Homo sapiens: one gene and its partners. The protein of the gene in region 2 purifies or fractionates together with the protein of the main gene of each other region. This does not show direct contact. Each region holds a gene or a part of one and is shown on either strand. Other genes may lie near its edges.

What was found.
Region 1: the proteins of HK1 (region 2) and ASPSCR1 purify together in Homo sapiens (affinity purification with mass spectrometry; 2 studies listed by BioGRID and IntAct, with this or other methods). This does not show direct contact.
Region 3: the proteins of HK1 (region 2) and SLC25A13 fractionate together in Homo sapiens (co-fractionation; one large-scale study listed by BioGRID). This does not show direct contact.

Annotation. Positions count from the first base shown.
Region 1 is NC_000017.11:81,984,117-81,987,842, reverse strand, and holds part of ASPSCR1 (tether containing UBX domain for GLUT4), read right to left. Parts: intron 2,337-3,726; coding exon 2,236-2,336; intron 1-2,235. UniProt on the Homo sapiens protein: Tethering protein that sequesters GLUT4-containing vesicles in the cytoplasm in the absence of insulin. Modulates the amount of GLUT4 that is available at the cell surface. Enhances VCP methylation catalyzed by VCPKMT.
Region 2 is NC_000010.11:69,398,641-69,402,402, forward strand, and holds the end of HK1 (hexokinase-1), read left to right. Parts: coding exon 1-188; intron 189-2,350; coding exon 2,351-2,495; 3' UTR 2,496-3,242; downstream 3,243-3,762. UniProt on the Homo sapiens protein: Catalyzes the phosphorylation of various hexoses, such as D-glucose, D-glucosamine, D-fructose, D-mannose and 2-deoxy-D-glucose, to hexose 6-phosphate (D-glucose 6-phosphate, D-glucosamine 6-phosphate, D-fructose 6-phosphate, D-mannose 6-phosphate and 2-deoxy-D-glucose 6-phosphate, respectively).
Region 3 is NC_000007.14:96,189,599-96,193,098, forward strand, and holds part of SLC25A13 (electrogenic aspartate/glutamate antiporter SLC25A13, mitochondrial), read right to left. Parts: coding exon 3,439-3,500; intron 1,650-3,438; coding exon 1,511-1,649; intron 77-1,510; coding exon 1-76. UniProt on the Homo sapiens protein: Mitochondrial electrogenic aspartate/glutamate antiporter that favors efflux of aspartate and entry of glutamate and proton within the mitochondria as part of the malate-aspartate shuttle.

The DNA of each region.
Region 1 (3,726 bases), on a different chromosome or scaffold from region 2:
GGAGTTTTGCTCTTGTCACCCAGGCTAGAGTGCAATGGTGCGATCTCGGCTCACTGCAACCTCCTCCAAAGCGCCCAAACCCACCCCCACAGCCACCACCAAAGCCAGCTCCAAAGCCACTTCCAGAACCACCACGCCTGGCCAAGCCTGTTGTTTCTTAAACTAAGTTTCACACGAGGTTTACAAAGTCTGTTGAAGAGGCTTATGCTACCACAATGCCGGCCCCACCTCTCCAGACACCCTCGGCCCCTCCCCAGTGGCAGCCCCAGGCCACTCTGGGCCATTTCCTTACCTCCATCCCCATCTGAGGACTGACAGCACAGCCAGGGAGGACGGCCCTCACCAAGCACCTGTGCCTGTGGGAGCACTGGATTCTGTTCACGCCCGGGGGCACCGCCCGGCCCAGGGGCATTTCCTTCCAGACGTTCATCTTTCCTGACTTCTGTTCCCCGCGCTGTTTGGTTTTCTTCTTGCCCTCTGCCACTCTCGTCTCAGGAAGCAGCACAGAGCCAGGGCGCCGGGATCCCTGCTTCTCACCCAGTGCCCACACAGCGCCTGGGGCTGCCTGCCTCCCTGCCCGGCGCCACTCCTGGCTCGGGTCCCGCTCACCCCTGCCCGTGGCTTCGCTTTGCTCTCAGGCTCCGTCATCTCCTGCCTCGGGTCCCGCTCACCCCTGCCCGTGGCTTCGCTTTGCTCTTAGGCTCTGTCACCTCCTGCCTCGGGTCCCGCTCACCCCTGCCCGTGGCTTCGCTTTGCTCTTAGGCTCCGTCATCTCCTGCCTCGGGTCCCGCTCACCCCTGCCCGTGGCTTTGGCTTTGCTCTTAGGCTCCGTCACTGTTGTCTGAGTTCCGTTTTGGGAGGGAGAATTCCGTGCTCGTGCTTAACCCGCTGCCATCTCCAGGGGCCTCCATTCACCCCGACAGCCACTGGGGTGGCTTCCATCCCCATGACCACTGAGACCCGACGTGCAGACCTCAGCGCTCTCACCCACGAACGCAACACCCGTGCCATGCAGCGCGGCACTACTGTCAGACGGGAGCAGGCCCAGCCCTGGGGCCACCAAGCGCGCCCAACGCACAGTCACCTTCCCAGCGCCCGACGCGCGGTCACCTTCCCACAGGCCCTATGCTCGGTCCTCAAGACATGAACTCACCCCATCCACACACCAGCCGGGGCACAGGTGAGGAAACTGAGGCCCGGGGAGGGCGAGAACCCCCTGGCTCACAGCAAACCCCAGCCCCAAGTCCCTTCCATTCTGCTGAGCCTTTTACTGTGGACAGAGACTTCCAGCCAACGATGAAAAGACCCAAATTGACAAAGCACCAATTTTTACACATTCAGGAACAACGTTTAAACCATTAACCGACAGAAACTGATACACATCAATTACTTATTTTTATTTATTTATTTTTTTGAGACAGAGTCTCGTTCTGTTGCCCAGGCTGGAGTGCAGCAGTGCGATCTCGGCTCACTGCAACTGCCTCCACGGCTCAAGTGATCCTCCCACCTCAGCCTCTGGCATAGCTGGGACCACAGGCACGCACCACCATGCACTATGCCTGGCCTAACATTTCTATTTTTTGTAGAGAAGGGGTTTCACTATGTTGCCGAGGCTAGTCTTGAACTCATGAGCTCAAGCGATTCGCCAGCCTCGGCCTTCCAAAGTGCAAGCCACTTTGCCCAGCCACTGTGCCCAGCCACTGTGCCCAGCCATCCAATTACTATTAGGAAGATTTTCTGGTGGGGCACAGGAGCTCACACCTGTAATCTCAACGCTTTGGGAGGCTGAGATGGGAGAATTTCTTGAGCCCATGGGTTCAAGAGCAGCCTAGGTGACCAACATAGTGAGACCCTGCCTCTTAAAAAAAAGAGACCTTATGATCCCATCCAGGGGAATCAAGCATGGGGAGCCCTGCCCCCAGCACCGAACGTCTCCCCTTAGTGCTCACCAGGCCCCCACAAGGACAGAAGCACATTCCTGCTCTTCTAGGTGGGCAAGGCTGGGCCGCTGGGCCCAGGAAACTCAGAACGATGAGCTGTGACCAGCCATCCCCGAGGCTGCTGCTCATGAACCGGCAGCCCACACACCCCTCCTCTACAAAGGACTGCAAAGTGCCAAGAGGCACCACAGGCCAGCACAGAGCTTGGGTGTCCAGCTCTGAACCAGACCCAGTAACCACAGCAGCTTCCCCAGCAAACAGGGTAGGGAAGAGCCCCCAGCCCACTGATGCTCACCTGATCTGTGGAAAATGGCTGAGAAGCTCCCAGAGGGTCTGGCCTGAACAGAAAGAGTCCTGCAACCTCGAGCCATCGTCCAGCTGCAAAGCGATGCGAACCTGGAGGGTATAAGACATGAGAAACTTCCTTAGGAAGAAAAGCAACTATTCCTTCTAAATCCCAGACTGATTCTCCAGACACAGAGAGGGTGACTGCCCCGCCCTGGCCTCCAGGGAGAGGCTGACCCCCACGGAGAAGGCTACCCTCCTATTCACTCTGGAGTGAGGGCCTTGGAGGCTCCCCGGCAGGGCTGCACCAGCATGCGTGTGTGCATGTGAGTGTGCAGGTATGTGCAGGTGTGCGTGCGTGTGTGCATATGTGTGTGTGGGTGTGTGCGGGGGTGTGCAGTTGTGTGCAGGTATGTGTGTGGATGTGTGCATGTTGGTGTGTGGGTGTGTGCAGGTGTGCGCATGTGCGTGCAGATGTGCGTGTGTGTGCATGTTTACATGCAGGTGTGTGCGGGTATGTGCGCAGATGTGTAGGTGTGTGTGTACAGGTGTGTGCGTGGGTGTGTGTGGGGGGGAGGTGTGTGCATGTTGGTGTGGGCGGTGTGTGCAGGTGTGTGGGGGGGTGTGCACGCAGGTGTGTGGGTGTGTGCAGGTGTGTGGGGTGTGTGCGGGTGTGTGCGGGTGTGGGGGTGTGTGCACGTTGCTGTAGGGGTGTGTGTGGGTGTGTGTGGGGGGTGTGTGTGCGGGGGTGTGCAGGTGTGTGTGGGGTGTGTGCAGGGGTGTGTGGGGGTGTGTACGGGTGTGCGGGTATGTGGGTGTGTGGGGGTGTGTGTGGGTGTGTGTGGGTACATGCAGGCGCCACAGGAGTGAACTGTGTTGGAGACAGTCCTCGTGTCCCAGTGGGGGCTTCAAAAGATTGCAGCTCCACCGAACCTGACTGCAGCCTCAGGACAGACACTGAGCTAAGCTGCTCCCAGATTCCTGACCCTCAGAAGCCACATGAGATGGTAAATGTTTGCTGCTCTTTTTTTTTTTTTTGAGACAAAGTCTCACTCTGTCGCCCAGGCTGGAGTGCAGTGGCAGCACAATCTCGGCTCACTGCAAGCTCCGCCTCCCGGGTTCACGCCATTCTCCTGCCTCAGCCTGCTGAGTAGCTGGGACTACAGGCATCCGCCACCACCCACGGCTAATTTTTGTATTTTTAGTAGAGACGGGGTTTCATTATGTTGGCCGGCTGGTCCCAAACTCCTGACCTCAGGTGATCTGCCCGCCTCGGCCTCCTAAAGTGCTGGGATTACAGGCTGCCCTTGCGGCATCCATGCAGCGCTTTCGGCTCTAACATTCTGGGCAATTCTATGAGCAGGTGGTCAGGCTGGTGGGTGAATGCTGCTGACACCCTGAGCCAGGGAAGGCACAACTGACCCCAGAAAGAAAGAAAAACTTCCACATGAAGAATGACGTGGGCGGGGCGCAGAGGCTCACGCCTGCAATCCTTTGGGAG
Region 2 (3,762 bases):
GGTCTGAATAGCACCTGCGATGACAGTATCCTCGTCAAGACAGTGTGCGGGGTGGTGTCCAGGAGGGCCGCACAGCTGTGTGGCGCAGGCATGGCTGCGGTTGTGGATAAGATCCGCGAGAACAGAGGACTGGACCGTCTGAATGTGACTGTGGGAGTGGACGGGACACTCTACAAGCTTCATCCACAGTGAGTGGGCCTTCCAGTTGGGATGCGCAGAGCTTGCTGGGATCCCTTTGGGTTAGGGGGTATCAGGGTGTGGTTTACGCTGGGGAAATGCCCTGCGGGAGCCCAGCCAGGCTGAAGGCTGTGCGTTCAGGAGCTGGGGATTGTCTAGGACAAGGTAATGAACAGTTTGTAGGGTTTGACTGGGATCCTTAGGGAGACAGAGAAGTGGCTTCACTTGGCCAGCTCACACCAGTGGCATGATGTGACCCTCACCCCACTCCTCCTGGTCCCCCTTAGGTGGGGGCTAGGCAGTGGGAGAGGAGGTGAGGGTGGGCGTGGGCTCACTCATAAGCCTGGTGAGCTGTAGCCAGGCCAGAGGCTCTGTTGGGTAAGTGGGGAGAGGATATTAAGAAAGGGGAGGAGCTGGGTGCAGTGGTTCACACCTGTAATCCAGCACTTTGGGAGGCCTAGGTGGGAGGACTGCTTCAGTCCAGGAGTTTGAGACCAGCCTAGGCAACATAGTGAGACCTTGTCTGTACAAAAAAATTTTGAAAATTAGCCAGGGATGGTGGTGAATGCCTGTAGTCCCAGCTACTCGGGAGGCTGAGGGAAGAGGATTGCTTGAGCCTGGGAGGTGGAGGTTGCAGTGAGCCCAGATCACGCCACTGTACTCCAGCCTGGGCAACAGAGTGAGACCCTATTTCAAAAAATAAAATAGGAAAGGAGGATAGCCACTCTCTTGTTCATCTGCTGAATCAGTTTGCTAAGACTTGGAAGGGCGGGAGCGGTTTGGGCCCTGGGCTTCATGGCAGGGAGGGGTAGGGAGTGGCCTCCCTCTGGTCAGGCATCTGACCCCCCATGCCAGAGAAGGACATGTGATTGCACTTGCTGTGTGATTGTGATCCACCGCATGTCTCACCTTATGAATAGGGTGACCATATTATTTATTTATTGTCTACACTAGGGTACTCTTGCCAGTCAAGAGTGCTAATAATTATTACTCTGGGACTGTAGGCAAACTAGGACCATCCCAGATAAATGAGGCCATAGTGTCACCCTACTTATAAGCAACCTCACCCGACTCAGTGTAGACATTACCTGCTTACCTCATGGCCGTGGCTTGGGGTGGAACCATCTGTCTTGCTCCATCCTCACCTCTGTCTCTCCCCCTTAATAGCTGTCCTTGCCATCAGCTGAGGCAGCACACAGGAGTGGTTTAGAGCTAGGCTTTGGAGCCACATACTCTTGGATTTAACCCTGGCACCGTCACTTAGAATCTGTGTGCAATTGCTTAATCCCTGCAAAATCTCATCTTCCTCATGAGGTGGCAGCCACTGGCAGGACTAGAAATTAGAGCTGTAAAATATGGGGCACCTAGTAGGTCCTCAAACTCCTTGGCTCAAGTGATCCTCCCACCTTGGCCTCCCAAAGTGCTGGCATGAGCCACCGCACTCCGCCCACCTAATAGGTCCCCAACCAAGGACAGTGACTACTTTTGAGAGCCCCTCACCACAAGCATCTTCAGCCTGGCCCTGCCCTTCATTTTGAGCCCAACTTACAAGCATGTAGATTCAGCCTTTGTTCAGATACTATCTTCACTGGAAGGCATTCCTGTCTTTGGGGGCCAGGCTGTTGATGGTGGGGCGCTGGGGGTCTCAGGGTTGCAGCTGGAGATGGGTGATATTCATTCCTGCATAGCCTCCTGAACCGATCCAGTGCTTGGCTGGCTTGCACCTGCCTTAATGATCCATGTCAGCCCCTAACATCCTCCTTGGTTTTGAGGTCCCCCTGGAGCCTCAAGCTCCGATGTGGGTGTGTGTGTTATTCATGTCCTAGCCTTCATAAGCCATACAGAGCAGTTGTGTTTGGATTCGCAGTTGGGCCTCCCTGCTGAAAACTGTGACAATGGGATTGACCGTGGGCCCACTTTCCTCCCAGCCATTCTCAACTGGCCACAGCTGCTTCTAAGCAGCCTGCCTCCCAACCATGTTCACCCTCCTTGTTGTTGGGTTCAGAGTCTCTTTGACTTCCGATGCTTATGTCCTGATAAACCCATCACAAAGTCGAAGAATCCTAAGTCGAATCATCACCAGTCAGGGGGCTGTCTGTGCTTTGGTGTTTTCGGGTAGGCCCAGCGTCTCTCATCTTCCTCCAACTACCTTCTGTTTTCTCGTCCTTTTTAGCTTCTCCAGAATCATGCACCAGACGGTGAAGGAACTGTCACCAAAATGTAACGTGTCCTTCCTCCTGTCTGAGGATGGCAGCGGCAAGGGGGCCGCCCTCATCACGGCCGTGGGCGTGCGGTTACGCACAGAGGCAAGCAGCTAAGAGTCCGGGATCCCCAGCCTACTGCCTCTCCAGCACTTCTCTCTTCAAGCGGCGACCCCCTACCCTCCCAGCGAGTTGCGCTGGGAGACGCTGGCGCCAGGGCCTGCCGGCGCGGGGAGGAAAGCAAAATCCAACTAATGGTATATATTGTAGGGTACAGAATAGAGCGTGTGCTGTTGATAATATCTCTCACCCGGATCCCTCCTCACTTGCCCTGCCACTTTGCATGGTTTGATTTTGACCTGGTCCCCCACGTGTGAAGTGTAGTGGCATCCATTTCTAATGTATGCATTCATCCAACAGAGTTATTTATTGGCTGGAGATGGAAAATCACACCACCTGACAGGCCTTCTGGGCCTCCAAAGCCCATCCTTGGGGTTCCCCCTCCCTGTGTGAAATGTATTATCACCAGCAGACACTGCCGGGCCTCCCTCCCGGGGGCACTGCCTGAAGGCGAGTGTGGGCATAGCATTAGCTGCTTCCTCCCCTCCTGGCACCCACTGTGGCCTGGCATCGCATCGTGGTGTGTCAATGCCACAAAATCGTGTGTCCGTGGAACCAGTCCTAGCCGCGTGTGACAGTCTTGCATTCTGTTTGTCTCGTGGGGGGAGGTGGACAGTCCTGCGGAAATGTGTCTTGTCTCCATTTGGATAAAAGGAACCAACCAACAAACAATGCCATCACTGGAATTTCCCACCGCTTTGTGAGCCGTGTCGTATGACCTAGTAAACTTTGTACCAATTCAAAGACCCGAGTGATGCTTAATGGCTGGGGACGGGGGGACAGGCAGAGGGGGGTGCAGTTTCTTGGGATGTGGCAAAGACCAAACACTGGGGAGTTTTGTGGCCTTCTGGGCGGAGGAGTTTTTTTTTTTGAGATGGAGTCTTGCCCTGTCACCCAGGCTGGAGTGCAGTGGCACAATCTCAGCTCAGTGCAACCTCTGCCTCCCGAGTTCAAGTGATTCTCCTGCCTCAGCCTCCTGAGTAGTTGAGACTACAGGCGTGCATCCCCACACCCAGCTAATTTTTGTATTTTTAGTAGAGAAGGGGTTTCACCATGTTGGCCAGGCTGGTCTCCAACTCCTGACCTCAAGTGATCTGCCTGCCTTGGCCTCCTAAAGTGCTGGGATTATAGAACAAGGCCACTTGGCTTCCAGGCTGCTTGGGTTCAGTGAGAGGACTGCAACACTGGTCCCCTCTCTGCCATCCCCACCCGGATCCTGCCCTTCATCTTCCTCTCTGCCAACCCCAAGACAAAGGATGAAATG
Region 3 (3,500 bases), on a different chromosome or scaffold from region 2:
TCTGCTAACTGAAACAAGATGTCAACTTCCATGGGTGTAACCTGACCAAATTTCTGAGCTGCCAGAACAAACTCCTCTGTATGGAAGAAAAGTTAAAAGGGAAAGATTCAAGAAGAAATAGCCACTAAATTCAGCATTAACTCAAGGCACTGGAATGAGTGAACATCACAAAACTTTATTATTATCATCAGTTGTAGAATTCAAGTCAATCCAAATAAGGTAAGAATTTTTGCAGTTCTTGCATCCATTTGGAAAGCGTGTGCAGAATATGTTCTTGAATATACAGTTTAAAAGCTTGGGGTCATCTGATGTTATTCAAATTGCCAATCAGAGAAAATAAGGAATCATATATGAAACTTCATATGCATAGGTCCCAGGAGGGGAAGTTATATTAATCTAATTAACTGGTTAAATTAGGATTATTAATTATATTAATTTAGGTGGTTATATTAATGAAGGTGTGGAATTCCTAAGGGAATTCTGATTTTTTTTTTTTTTTTTTTTGAGACAGAGTCTTGCTCTGTTGCCCAGGCTGGAGTGCAGTGGTGCAATCTCGGTTCACTACAACCTCCGACTCTTGGGTTCAAGCGATTCCCCTGCCTCAGCCTCCCAAGGAGCTGGAACTACAGGTGTGTGCCACCATGCCCTGCTAATTTTTTTATATATACATTTTTAGTAGAGACGGGGTTTCACCGTGTTAGCCAGGATCGTCTCAATCTCCTGACCTCATGATCTGCCCGCCTCGGCCTCCCAAAGTGCTGGGATTACAGGCATGAGCCACCGCACCGGCTCTGATTTTTTTTCTTAATCCCATTACAATGCTGATAATATCCTGTCCCAAGCCTACAGACCAACTTACACTGTCACCAATGCAACTTTATGGAATTCCTCATATACACCTGAAGGCTTCCTTAGAGGTTGCCAATTTAGCTCAAGCTGTAGCAAGATTTGAAAATATTTAAGAAACTTTACATGTTTTCCTTATTCAAAGGGTGTCTTCAGTTTATTTATTTATTTATTTATTTATTTTTGAGATGGCATTTTGCTCTTGTTGCCCAGGCTGGAGTGCAGTGGCGTGATCTCGGCTCACTGCAACCTTCGCCTCCCAGGTTCAAGCGATTCTTCTGCCTCAGCCTCCCAAGTAGCTGGGATTACAGGTGCCCACCACCACACCCGACTAATGTTTGTATTTTTAGTAGAGACAGGGTTTCACCCTCTTGGCCAGGCTGGTCTCGAACTCCTGATCTCAGGTGATCCACCCACCTCGGCCTCCCAAACTGCTGGGATTTCAGGTGTGAGTCACCAAGCTGGGCCCAGTTTGTTTAAAACTTGGTGAAGATTGTTTTGTTTGCTTTTGTTTGTCTGATCAAAGGATGAAAAACACACGTTATCATATAGTTAATATGTGTCAATGGGATAGAAAAATAATAAAGTACTAGTTGCCTTCTTCACCCTAATAATAATACACCACAATACTTGCAGGCTAGAATTCAGATATATTCTCACTCACCCTTAGTCACTTCAACATCTTTCCTGGTGCCAGCCAGAGTGCTATAGATCTTTCTAATGAGTTCCATGTTGTTAAGGAGCGAATTAAATCCATTAAAATAGGAGAAACTAACTTGATGGGATGTGGTACCTCCAGCAGCCTCAAATAAATTGAAAACAAGAGAGAAGAAAAATATACAAAAGATTTATAGATGATTCAGAAGTACATACATCTAAAACTAGTTTGAAAGTAATCAAAAATGCATGTACAAGAAGAAATGACTATAAGTATTTTTCTTTTGCATTAAAAAAAAGCTATAAATGATTTTTAGAAGCAACTGCAACTAATCATGACCAGAACTTGTACTCTCCATACACAACTCCTAGAAAACTAAATAAATACATGTGTAGGATTATAACAGGACTAGTAGTAATTTAGAGTTCAAATTTCAATTGGAAATGTTTTATAAGTTGGTTTATTTCATCTAATGAGCAAATCTTAAAGGCTTAAACATGCAAAAACTATAAGTACATATGCACACATGTGTGTGCTTATGCATGAAAAACTGTATTGTATCAATGCAAACATACTATGAAAAGTAGTCAATGTAACATTAATATCAAGACTTGTCAAGTTACTTATAACCAGTAATAAATAATCATTTAGGTACAGACTTTACATTGGTGGGATTTCTAGCAAACAAGCATATTATGGTAAAATTATGAGATGCCATATACTTTCATGGGGGGTTAAGACTAGTAAAAATTCTGATAATCAGAATTTTTAAGAAACCATATTTCTTCACAGGGGACAAGGGAAACAGACAGAATGTCCATTATGAATGAGACTTCAGTTTGGAGTTTCAAATTCTATCCTTCCCTAGCAAGGCAAAATATTTTTATTAGGAAAGCACTTCTTTACAAGGTAACAACCACATAAATCTTCACTTAGTAATCATTTAAAATAGCTGACATGAAAGTTTAGTATGGAGTAGAGAAGGGGGCGCCCAAGAAAAGGAGTTAGATTAACACAGTGCCAGAATGGAAGAGGCCTCGTTGGAATACCATGTCTCTAGAACTAAGGACTTGGGGGAAGAAAGGAAACTGAAAGGCTACTCTGAGTTCCTGCCTATGGTAAGCACTGTGGGAAACCCAGATGATGGTGAAAACAGTATTCTCCCTGGGATTAACAAAAGGAGAGTTACCACGGGCTATTGGTCCTAAAACTGAGTTATTACCAAAATCACCCAGAAGCTTTACAAAATTAGATTCTAAGACCTCATCGCCTATAGATGGTGTATGATAGGCCTAGAAGAGATCTCAGAATCTGTAGTTTTAATAGTTTTTAGTGGTGATTCTGGTGCTCCACGAGCAGGTCTTAAGAACCACCACCACAGAATGTTGCAGGACATCCCCAGGGCCCATGAGGGAAGGACAGCAGCTGACACCTGGAGGAGGGAGGCTCCATGAAACACAACTGCAGGGCTCTGCTGTCACATGTAACTCTGTGGCCTCGACACATACACGGTGAAAGGGAATCTAAGGTTTGGAGTTTCTGTTGTGCTAACTACTCTAACAAATGATATACATGTGCACTATTTTTTTTTTTTTTTTGCCTTAGAGCATCTAAGAAGATTAGCAAAAATCAGCCCTTGATATACTTCAAAATCTAAAACAAAATTAACATGAGATCACAAATCTGTTTTTCCTTTTATCTTTAAAAAGCTAATGTATTTCTCGAAGATATTCCGTATTACCCAGACAACAAATTAACCTACCCACTAAAACTAGCCAAAACACACTCTTTGTTTGAGTTTAGTAATGTATGTGATCACATTAAAATGTTAGTGTTTGCAACAGAAAAAAAACACTACATAACTTATAAGAATTGTTTTTATAATTCCTTATTTACTGAGTTAAACCACTTCATTAGGGCAAGTTACAACTTACAGCTACTAGACATTCTTCTACAAAAGGAGTCAAGACATGGGGGCGGATGGTGACCATGATGT